2 separate regions of the Homo sapiens genome follow, and region 1 is linked to region 2. A link means that fine-mapping ties the variant in region 2 to the expression of a gene that starts in the linked region. Tissue or cell type: NK cells. Region 2 holds a variant in brackets; the other region holds the start of a gene. All regions are shown on one strand. Distances are from middle to middle.

Region 1 (5,369 bases), 60 kb before region 2:
AAGTTGGGGACCTGCAAGTAGGGTTCCAGTCCAGGTCCGCGTGCGCAGGCCGGGCGCCCTCAGGTTTAGCGGCCACGCCCTTGCGTTCCTTCCGGGTTGCGTGAGGATTCCTGAAACGCAGTTTTCAGCAGCTGCTCTGGGCAGCTCCACACGATCCTTTCAGCGAAGTTGGCGAGTGTCCGACCCAGACAGAAAAAAGCAAAGCCAGACTCCAAGCGCTATCAGCCAGGCGTGATTCTAAGCACTTTTCTGCGCATTGTCTCTGAGTCCTTAGATCAGTGCTGTTATGTCCTGTATTACAGGTGAGGAAAGAGGGGCAGGGAGCGTGGCTGGTGCTGTCTAGGATGGGGACTGAAGTCCAGGTGGCCTGGCTGCAGTGCCCCTCTAGTCACCACTGCACTGTCCCCTGCTGACCCGTCACCTGAGTGCCGTTGTCCAAGGGCCTGAGACTGCCGACAGCCAGACAGATGTGCACACACGCTTACATGCACATACTGTTCCAGTCTGAGGCGTCAAACTACAGGGGCTGGTCCAAGCCTCAGGACAAGGACCTGCAGACGTAGAGATGCAAGGTTTGGCACAGAGAACAGGGCGCCTGCCTTGGTGTTGTCCTGCCCTGCAGCCCCATCTAAGGACAGCCACCACCAGTACAGGGCCATAGGGCAGAAACACCTGGATCCCTGGCAAAGGCTGACAAGCTGGCATGAGCCAGGGCAGGAGGGATGGCTGTCCTCAGCTGGTCAGGGAATACAGGCCAAGTGGACAGGGGCCAGGTGCTCCGGAAGGCACCTTCTTTGCCATCATTTGACATATTTGTGAGTGTGTGTGTGTGTGTGTGTGTGTGTGTGTGTGTTGTAGGCGCCAGGCCCTGACAAAGCTGTGGGGGTGCAACAGTGAAGAAGACATATGGATCCATGGTTCAGGGACCCATATCAGTCAAATCCCGTCTGGAAGGGAATGCGGGTCTCTTGATGGCCACTTACCTGCTCTGCCAGTCTCGTTTGTCTCCTCTAGTGCCACCAGCCACGAGATAGAGCTTTGGGGCTTTGAGCCAAGTGATATCAGCTTTACCTCCAGGGCCAGTCCCCTCAGCTGTAGGAGTCTGAGCAAGTGACTTGACTTTTCTGGGGCTCAGCTTGCCCACCTGTGAAATGGGATCTTAATAGCAGCACTGGCCACATATGTTGTTGAGGAGCCTGCTGCAGAGGAGGTGCTCCGTAGAGGCTGCTGATCACATGCGGGGGCAAGAGGGAACATTTATAAGCCTTGGGGATGGGTGCTGCCAATTGAAATGTAGTACCAGAATATTTTTCTGCAGTGAGAGGAGCTTGAGCTGAATGGGGATCCCTGATGGAACAGAATCACATTTCAGATGAAACGCCTGTTCTCTATCACTCTTTCTCTTTAAACCTATCCTCTGAGTCTCGGCACAGATACCACTTCTTCTGAGCCCCTGGGCTGTGCTGGGCATCGTTTCTGTGCTCTGTGCCTTCTTTGCTCCCAGCCCCGATGACCTTAGAGGACACAAACTCCTCCCTGGTCTGCACCCCATCAGATTGGGAGCACCTGGTGTGAAGTGCCCCTGCCAGAGGCTGGTGAAGGGCAGGTGGGGGCCATCTTCTCCTGCCTCAGCTGTGCTCCCCGGAGCCCCCTGCCTGTGTGGCCCGCCTGTGCCCTCCACCCGCTCCCCACTCACTGCACGGGCAGAGGGTGCCCACTGACCGACGGTGCTGCTGCCCGTGCCATGCCCTGGGGAGGGTGAGAAGAGGGACACCACCATGCAAGTGCGGGGCAGGGCAGCCTGCCACCATAGCCTCATTCCATGTACACACCCAGTCTACCAGAGACGCTGTTGGCCCAGTCAGCTGGGGCTTGGAGAGAGCATGCCAAAGTCACACAGATGGAGAAGTGCAACTCAAACTGAGGCCTCCCTGCCTCAAAGCCCCAGATCCCCCAGCTACACGCTGCCAGGCTGGGGCTGAGCACTGTCACACGGCTGCCACCCAGGCCTGCCTTCCCCACAGCCCGCCAGCCATGCAGAAAAGCTGTCCGTAGTTACCTTTCTTCTCCTTCCACCTGGCACCCCACTCCTCAGGTGGTCACACTCCAGCAGTGCCCTCCCTGGCCCTGGAGGCCCGGCGTGGCTGGTGTCATCTGTGAGGGGAACTAGGCCCAGTTCCTTGGAATTCCTATTTTGTTTCCTTGCCATGGGTCTCAGTGACCCAGCTGATGGCTCAGTCCAGGGACCCCAGACTCTGCCAAGGCATTTCCGTGAGTGAGGAGGCAGAGTCCACTGGAAGGAGGGCGGGAGTTCCTGACAGGAAGTGTGGCAATTTGATCATGCCTGAACAGGCAACGGGGCAACATTTTTTTCTCTGCTCCTAAGTTATTACAGCAATGAAACAGTCCAAAAAGGGAAATCTGTCCTCTCCAGGATTGCCACCCAGGGGGTGGAATTTTTTTTTTTTTTCTTAGCATCTTTTTATTTTTCTCTGGTAACAAAGCCTGGAGCAGGGTGACTGCCATTAACCTAGGATACCTCCCTAATGCTTGGAACAGAATGGAGAGGTGGCTGACTTTGACTCAGAAGCCTGCATACAGCTCTGCCCCTGACTCTTCCACTTTTTTTTTTTTTTTTTGACCGAATCTTGCTCTGTTGCCCGGGCTGGAGTGCACTGATGCAATCTCTGCTCACTGCAACCTCCGCACCTGGGTTCAAGCAATTCTCCTGCCTCAGCCTCCCAAGTAGCTGGAACTATAGGCGTGTGCCACCACGCCTGGCTGATTTTTGTATTTTTAGTAGAGACTGTGTTTCACCATGTTGGCCAGGCTGGTCTTGACCTCCTTACCTCAGGTGATCTGCCCACCTCAGCCTCCCAAAGTGCTGGAATTAGAGGCGTAAGCCACCATGTCTGGCCAACTCCTCCACTTTTTAACTGTGTGTCCTCAGGCAAGTCACTTTATTCTCTGAGCTGCAACTTCTACCACTGCAAAATGGAATATTGACCCCACTCTGACTGTCCTGCAGACTTATTCTGAAGCTCAAATAGAAAACAGCCAGCCCCAAGTGGCGTGCTGTAAATGAGTGTGGGCTCTCCTGTAGCCTAGAACAAAGGCGAGGGCTGTGGGTTTGGAAGAAAAAGAATTTGCCTCTTAGTCGTTACTCTGTCCTGCTCATTCAGCACTGGCTGAGGGGACATGTCCTGTATTCCAGCCCCAGGCTGGCTCAAGGACAGTACTGAGAAGGCAAGGGCCTCATGCACACCAGGAGGTTGTGGGAATCAGTTCATCACATGGCCATGTTGCCTCAGACGCCAGAGAAGCACCTTCAATTTTGGCTAGAACAGTTTGCTCCCAGAAGCAGAGAGCAGTGCAGAGTCTGGGCCAGAGCCAGGGACAGGCTTGGTGAATGCAGAACGTCCAGGAGGCAAGGTAGGGCTCAGTCCACAAAAGAGAGATCGAAAAGTTAGCAAAGTACGTTTAGTAAAAAGCACACAATAAAATAAAAGGTGTGGAGTACGGCAGACATTCCAGGAACCTGGAATGTGAAACGCACGTGGAAACGTCCGGCCCTGACATGCACGGTGGTGGGAATGTGGCTGCTCAAAGCAAGTGGGGAATCAAGACTTCCAAAGAGGAAAACCACCCTCAGGAGTTAGGTTGGGGATGTATTGAGCACGCCAGTCATTCAGTGCAATCGTCCTTCTGTGTGTTAATCAGTCAGGCATGCCCCGGGAGAAGTGGCTGTTTCTTGAACTGGATTTCAGCTATGCAGCCTGGTTTCCTCATTGAGTGGTGGGCCTAGAGCAGCATTCTGATGTGCAAATCCTTAATTATAACATGACCTAAAAAGGCGGAGGATTCCCCAGGACAGTGTGGAGGAGGCACCACATCAATCTCAGCTGGATCTTGGAGACCCCGCTGGAAGAGGCGGCTTCTGAGCGGACAGAGAAGGATACGGGGTGAGAGGACAAGGAGCCAAGGCCTGCAGGCACAGATGCCTGCAGTGTGTGGGAGGAAGTGAAATTGTCAGTGAAGCATGGTTGGGGCCTGAAGTACAGGAGATGGGCAGAGGAGGGGCAGGGACAGCTGCATCCCTGTGCATGGAGGGCCCCTCTGCCCCTATGCTGTCCTGATAGGGACTGCATTTTCATCATCTCATTTACCCCTCCTCATCCCATTGCTGTGACTCCCCTCTCTATACCCTCCCTGTTTCCTCATCTGTAACAGTGGGGACCTCACCAGATTTTGCTAAAGCTCAAATTGGATCAGGTGTCCCCTCATCCCGTTAAAAATTGCTTCGTAGTCCTCTGTTGGGTTTGAAAACTCAAAAGGAACCAGAAATTAGGCAGTGGACATGAATGTGCAGCTACAGCTGGACAGAAAGTAAAAGAGCGGAGATGGGTCCCTCCCGGATCCAGATGGTAGCTAACCAGGGTTCCTGGTAGCCACAGCACTTGCCTCACCTTCAGCTCCTACTACATGTGCACAGCTCATGTTACATGTGCACAGGGCTTTCCCAAGTGTGTTCACCTTCATGATATCGTTTAGTCCTCAGAGGAACTATCAGACCTACATTTCGGGGCAACTGAAGTTCAGGGGGAGCATGGAGGAGCCTGCCTCCAAAGCGAGGGCTGGTTCCCCATTCCACAGGGCCATCGGCCCTGCACTGCAGGCAACTGCTAAGGAAGCGACTCCTATCACAGATGAAGTCATAAGACAAACATCCCCAGATGTTCTGGGCTGGGGCACGTTCTGCCTGCTCTGACACTCACTGGTTCCTTCATTCAGTCATTACTTGCCTGTCTTTATGAAGCTCCTACTCATTCAGGTTCTCCTGACCTTGCTCAGGCCCTCACTTCTGACTGCCCTGAACTGTGCTCACCCTTCAGCACTTAACTCTCTCGCCACCTCCTCCCAGCAGCCTCCCCAACCTCTCGCTGCCTCTGTGCTCCATGTGTGCCTTCCCCTCTGCACGTGTGCTGCTGCTCACGTGTGCCTTCCCCTCTGCACGGGAGCTCACTGTGGGCAGGGATGGTGTGCGTCTCAATGGGCTGATTGTGTCCCCTCAGATTCACATGTTGAAGTCCTCACCCCAAGTACCTGACAATGTGACTGTATTTGGAGATAGGGTTTTTGAAGAGGTAATTAAGGTTAAATGAAGTCATATGCATGGGGCTGTATTCCAGTATGCCTGGTGTCCTTATAGGAAGAGGAAATGAGGACACAGACACACACAGAGGGATGACCACGTGAGGACGCAGGGAGAAGGCAGCCACTTCTGCCAAGAAGGGAGGCTTCAGAAGGAACTAACCTGCTGACACTCTGAGCTTGGACTTCTGGTTTCTAAGACTGTGAGACAATACATT
Region 2 (5,369 bases):
TTACTTCCAAGGCAGTCACCACAGCACCACCTCTTGGAAAGTCACTTGGCCTCGATGGGAATCAACGTTCAGGGTAAGAAAGGTACTAACAACAGTAAACAAAAACAGCGACAGCCCCTAGGCACGTGCCAGCGCTCTGCTGTGAGTGTTCCAGCCCCACAAGGCAGGGATCGGGTTCCCCGTTTCAGAGAAGAAAATGGGGTACGGTGCTTATGCTGCACGCCCAAGGCTCCAGTTCCCACAGGCTGAGCCGGGACTCGCCCAGAATCCAAGCCTCGGCACCCGCACTGGGCCTTTGCCTCTGGTACATGCAGCAGAGGCTCTGCAGCGGGGGCCTTCCTTCCATCTCCCTTCCTTGTCAATTCTTCCGGTTCTAACTTACTCAACTGCTCCCAGACAGTGGCCTTCATCTCTGAGTTTTGCCTTTATCCCAGTGTGCCCCTACCCAAGCCACCAGCTGTCATGAGGGAAGGCAGCCTCTGCCCCTACCGTCTGGGCTTCTGTTTCTGCGTGGATTGTGGGTGGATCGCGATGAATGGTAGCAGCACCCTGACTAAAACCTACTACTGAAGAGGCACCTCTGTCATCTGCCCGGCTCTGGAGGTGGCCTTACCTACTCACAGGTGAAGAATGAGGGCCTAAGCATTTGCCTGAAGCTTCGTCCGACATGAGACTTGAACCTGGTTGTTTCCTGATCTAAAATCCCAGGCCCCTCCTAGCACCCTCCTAACTCTTTGACTGGTGACAGGGAGCTCTGCAGAAAATTCTGACCCAGAGCAGGGGTTCCAGATGCCCTGGGAGGATCAGGTAACAGCAGATCACAGAGAAATGCCACATGAGGAGGTGCAGAGACCTGGAGCCTGTCCCCTGCACACCACAACCCTACCGGGGTCCTTTCTAACCTCCTGGGCAGCAGGCGCCAGCTGGGCCAGTCTGAACATCCTCTCAGCCTCAGGGGAAAGGGTGGCCTATGATGACCACAACTTTACAGATGAGGAAACCTGGGTCTGGAGACACAGGGCACGCTGCCCTAGGCCTCATCCCCTCACCCACAAAGCCCCATGTGCAGACCCCTTGGCTGGGAAGAGCCCTGCTGTGCAGAGATAGGCCACCTGCCAGCCTTCTAGAACTCCGCTTTGTAGCGTTTCCCCCAGGCCCCGAGGCGCTCCATGTGTGGATTCCCTTTGCACCTCCCCACCCCCACTGGCTGTCCAGGCTGTTTGCAATAATTACTTGGCAGGGATTTCTTATTATCTAGGACACAGAGAAATCCACTGTCCCTAACGCAATTAAGTTCACAAGGCAAAGGAGGGCCAGAGGGTGCTGAAAGCAGCTTTCTTTAGCAGGGCTCGCCACTCGTGCCAACAGGTGCCCCTTGACTTCCCCGGTCTACATGCCAGCAAGCCTAGGCCCGCCAACAGATAATATCTTCTGCAGGGCAGAATTCTGTATAAAGTGGGTCAGGCTTGGGTCTCAGGTGGCTTTGGTCCAGATATTCCAAAGGTGTGCAGGTGGCCCCACTGTCTGGGGTTAGAAGCCAGGCCGGGAAGTCAGGTGCCACCCTTCTGCATGTGGGAAAGTACCAAGCTGCTCTAGGCCTCAGCCTCCTCATCTGTAAGAGGAACCAAGATGGTGTAAGGAGACTTACATGTACTTCCTCATAATCACCTGGATCTGTGAGTGCTGGGGATGGGAAACTAAGGCTCAGAGAGGGTGAGGTAAATGCCGGAGGTCACACAGCTACAATGCAGCAGGGCTGGGATGTGAACAGGAGCAAAGGCAGGCCCACCCCACAGGGTATCTCATAGACTTTACAGGCTGACAGGCAGGCAGCGTGGTCTGAGGCTTAGAGACAAATCCCAGCTCTGCCCTCCGACCAGCTGCGGCCTTGGACAACCAATTTATCCATTCCGTGCCTCCATTTCTTCATCTGTACAACTGATGTGATGGTGGTGAGGATTAAATATGTGAGATCCCTTAGTGCAGTGCAAATGAGCACTCAACCAAAACACTGGCTAGAGCAACTGTCAAACGGGACATGAGTCAAATTCAGCAAGCAGGCACCACACAGCTGCAGGCTCCCACCCAAACACTAAGCCAGGTCCCTACCTGTCCAATGCACACGACCACGGCGTATCCCCCGGGGCCGACGGCTACGCACTTTGGCTGAACGTCCAGTTTCACAACTCCTTGTCCGCTGTTAGAGAGAAAGGAAGCACATTACTTCGACAATGCAGCAGCTCAGGGTAGGTATGCATACATATTTACTGTTAAACCACAGTTTTGCTCCTTAGAAGGCAATTCTATTGCCACCTATACTGGAGAGACTTGCTAAAATATGGGATGGTAGCGAAAAAACGATCCATGACTCTGGTGCAAAGAGATTATAAGTCATAATGGGGGCCCGGGGAGGGG[TG/T]GGGGGGGGGGAAGGAGGGGCGGGAGGCGGTGAAAGGCGTTGATTATGCTCCTATTTATCTGTGGTAAGCCCTCATTACACCCAGATGTGGCTTTTGTCCCCCTGTCTGTTGGCTAAAGACTGGAGTTTACTGAGCACAGACAGAATTGAGCTCTGCTCCCCAAAATGGATGGGTAACTTTTAAGAATCCGTTACCTTTAATGGGTGAAAATCATGTTATTTTTAGCCTTGGCCAATGCTATCAAAACTTGTTCTAGAAAGACTCATACACACAAACTTCTTGAAAACTGAGATAATCAAGGAAATTTCTGTGTCACTCGGCCAAGTGTGGCATCCCCAAAGGCTCTGCAGCAAGGTCACCAGGCCAAGGCTGGCTCTGTAAGGGCCTTGCCTTGGGTTATCTGGCCCAGGGAAGACCCTTTTATGGGACGTGTTAAGAGTGGGGTCACCACAGGGCAGTAGAAAGAGGACCAGGGCCCAGATGCCTGGGCTCTGGGGCCGCTTCTGCCACTCATCGGGAGGCCCAATTTACCTACAGATGCCCAGTCTGCCAGGCAGGCAGGGCCTGTGTTACCTACAAGGACGGCACACCTGCTAGGAGTTGCGTGCTGCACCCTGTGCCAGGCTCCCATCAACAGGCCCCAGGAGTCCCCATCTCCCAGGCAACACGACTTAGGCAGGACTACCGGGTGACAAAGGGGTCTACACAAGAAATGTAGGGCCAGAGGAGGGGTCAGACCTGGGCATGGGGACACTGGATGTGCAGTGGCCTCGTCAGGTCCTGGAACATTTCTCTTTCAAGTCCCTCCAACTGCATTTAGGACTTCAGATCACTTGCAAACTGCTACTCTCCTAGCTCCACTGACTGCCAATCAAAGGCCCAAGACCAAAAACAAACAAGACATTGTCTTTTAACCAGATCACTGTGTGCCCATCTCACCCTTGAGCAGAAGGGGAATGCTGTCTTGTACTCAGCACCTGCCCTGTGCCAGGCTCACCTAATCCACAACAGCCTGAGGCAGGCTCCACTGTACCCGCCTTTACTGATGAGGAAAGGGACACAGGGAGAGACCGCAGCAGGTTCCTGGAGAACAGGGCTGTGATCTGCTGCCCCTGCTTCCAGGGCAGAGTCCACACCTGGTCGTTGTCTGTGGGCAAGAGCATTACCCAGACCACCTGGATCTGTAACACAGTGCTGGGCTCAGGGCCCAACAACAGGAGAACAATGCTGGGGACGGGGTGGGAGAGATGAAAGGAGCAAGTGAGGCGTCCTCCAGAACAGTAACTGCTGGAGGGCACAAGCCCTCCGAGGGGAGCTGAGGCTCATCCGGAACCCCCGCAGACCCGAGTGCTCTCACCTGTAGTCCCGCAGCATGAGGCTGGTGTACCGCACGGTGTCGTCCATGCTGCAGCTGATGAGCTGCCCCGACTCATCCACGGTCATCCTGGACACCTGGTTCGTGTGGCCTTTCCCAGCGAAGGAGTCGTTCTCCCCCGTCTCTGAATCCCAGTAATGTAGGGTGGGGTTAAGGAAAAGCCCGGCTCCCAGGACTGCTGGGTGTTCTCAGGTGTGGCTTCAGTCCTAAGATTCTCCATTTACATCAAGAATGAGAATCTCGCCGCAAACGGACATAACCATTCCCCCTGGGAAGCCTGCAGTGTCCACTGTTGACACGTTCTTAGGAAGGGGTATCTGAAGTGTGGGTGCACCACACAGGGATTGGGATGAGGCAGAAAGGGAGCCGTGCTGAAGGCCTACTGGGGACCAGCAAGCTGGGGAGGCTCCGGCGTCTCCTCTGCTACTAGTTATCGGGTAGGCGCAACCCTCTAACCCCACATTTCTTTATGTTTTGGGGGCAGAGGGTGGCATGTCTGCCCTCCTCTCCCAGCCTGGGGGGACCTCCTTGGGTCCCGGACAGTCCCTTTGGGAGGTACAGCACATGCGGACCAGAGCTGTCCACACAAAAGGCAGTCTCCAACACAGCACGGTGCTCAGGGAGGGCAGCAGAACAACGCACAGCAGGTGCCATCATCAGCAACGTGTGTGGGCATCCCTGCCCAGGCACTCTGCAGATGGTGGCTCCAAGGTTCAAGACACACCCGTGAGCAGGGTGTCACCAGCCCCAGGCCATGCAGGAAAAACACAACAGAAGCCCCCATCATCAGGGAGAAACCAGGACTCATTTAAAGAAACCCAGACAAGGACTTATAAGGGGGACACAAACACCTCCAGGGAACATCACCGAAGGGCCACAAGGCACCTCGCAGGAGCTCCAGCCCTGGCTCTGTGGACCACAGGCTGCATGACTCTGGGGCGGGCACATCAGCTCTCTGGGCTCTGGTTTTCCTATTTTTAAAACAAGGGGACCCAACGTAAGGGTGTCCAGGTGCTTGTGAATTCTAGGAATCAAGAAACCCACCATGTGGAGTAGGGCCAAGGCTGGCGCCAGGTGCCATTGGCAGAGGTAGTGGCAGCCCAAGCTCAGGGCCGTTAAGCCACACTCTCAGGGTTGCACGACAAGAAGGGACTGATCAGGTCGGAGCCGCCCATGGCTTTTCCTCAGCATAAGCCCTGGAGTTGCCAAGGACAACTCCAGGGGACAGTTGCCTGTCCCCATGTACAGACAGGCCACCCCTAGAAGCCACACGGGTCAGAAGAGCGTGTGGCTGTGGCTGCAGCTGGAGCCACCTGGCTGGCCTGGCCTCTGGCATCATGGGAACAGGAAATTCCCCCCTAGAGCCAGCGGCTCCGGAGCCAGCTCTTTGAGTCAAAGGATATTAATGTGTCCGTCGTGGCTCCCAGAGTAAATGTAGGACTTGCCGCCGTTTTTATGCACCGTCAGACACTGGATCGATTTACTGTGACCCTGTGAAGGAGACACACTGGGCGGGTAAGCTGATGACACACTGCCCTGCCCTCTGCCACCCGCTTTCCACCAACGAAGCTTCTGGG

Direction of the effects. Positions count from the first base shown, and alleles are read on the strand shown. Sizes are in standard deviations (SD) of each study's normalised expression.
With allele TG in place of T in region 2, the expression in NK cells of the gene that starts at base 2,277 in region 1 is lower (large effect, 1.1 SD a copy in Schmiedel 2018).

What was found.
Region 1: SLC2A9 starts here. The variant in region 2 is fine-mapped to the expression of SLC2A9 in NK cells (Schmiedel 2018, PIP 0.95).

The regions. Positions count from the first base shown.
Region 1 is chr4:10,019,221-10,024,589 of GRCh38, forward strand. SLC2A9 (solute carrier family 2 member 9) reads right to left here and starts at 2,277. Exons shown (of 12, transcript NM_020041.3): 1 at 2,060-2,277. The coding sequence starts at 2,209. RefSeq lists an enhancer at 1,759-2,258.
Region 2 is chr4:10,079,248-10,084,616 of GRCh38, forward strand. It overlaps WDR1 (WD repeat domain 1), which reads right to left. Exons shown (of 15, transcript NM_017491.5): 9 at 5,196-5,283; 10 at 3,775-3,931; 11 at 2,110-2,197. Among named protein-coding and RNA genes, the nearest start is that of MIR3138, 3.2 kb to the left of the region's middle. The variant TG/T (reference allele first, on the strand shown) is at 2,416.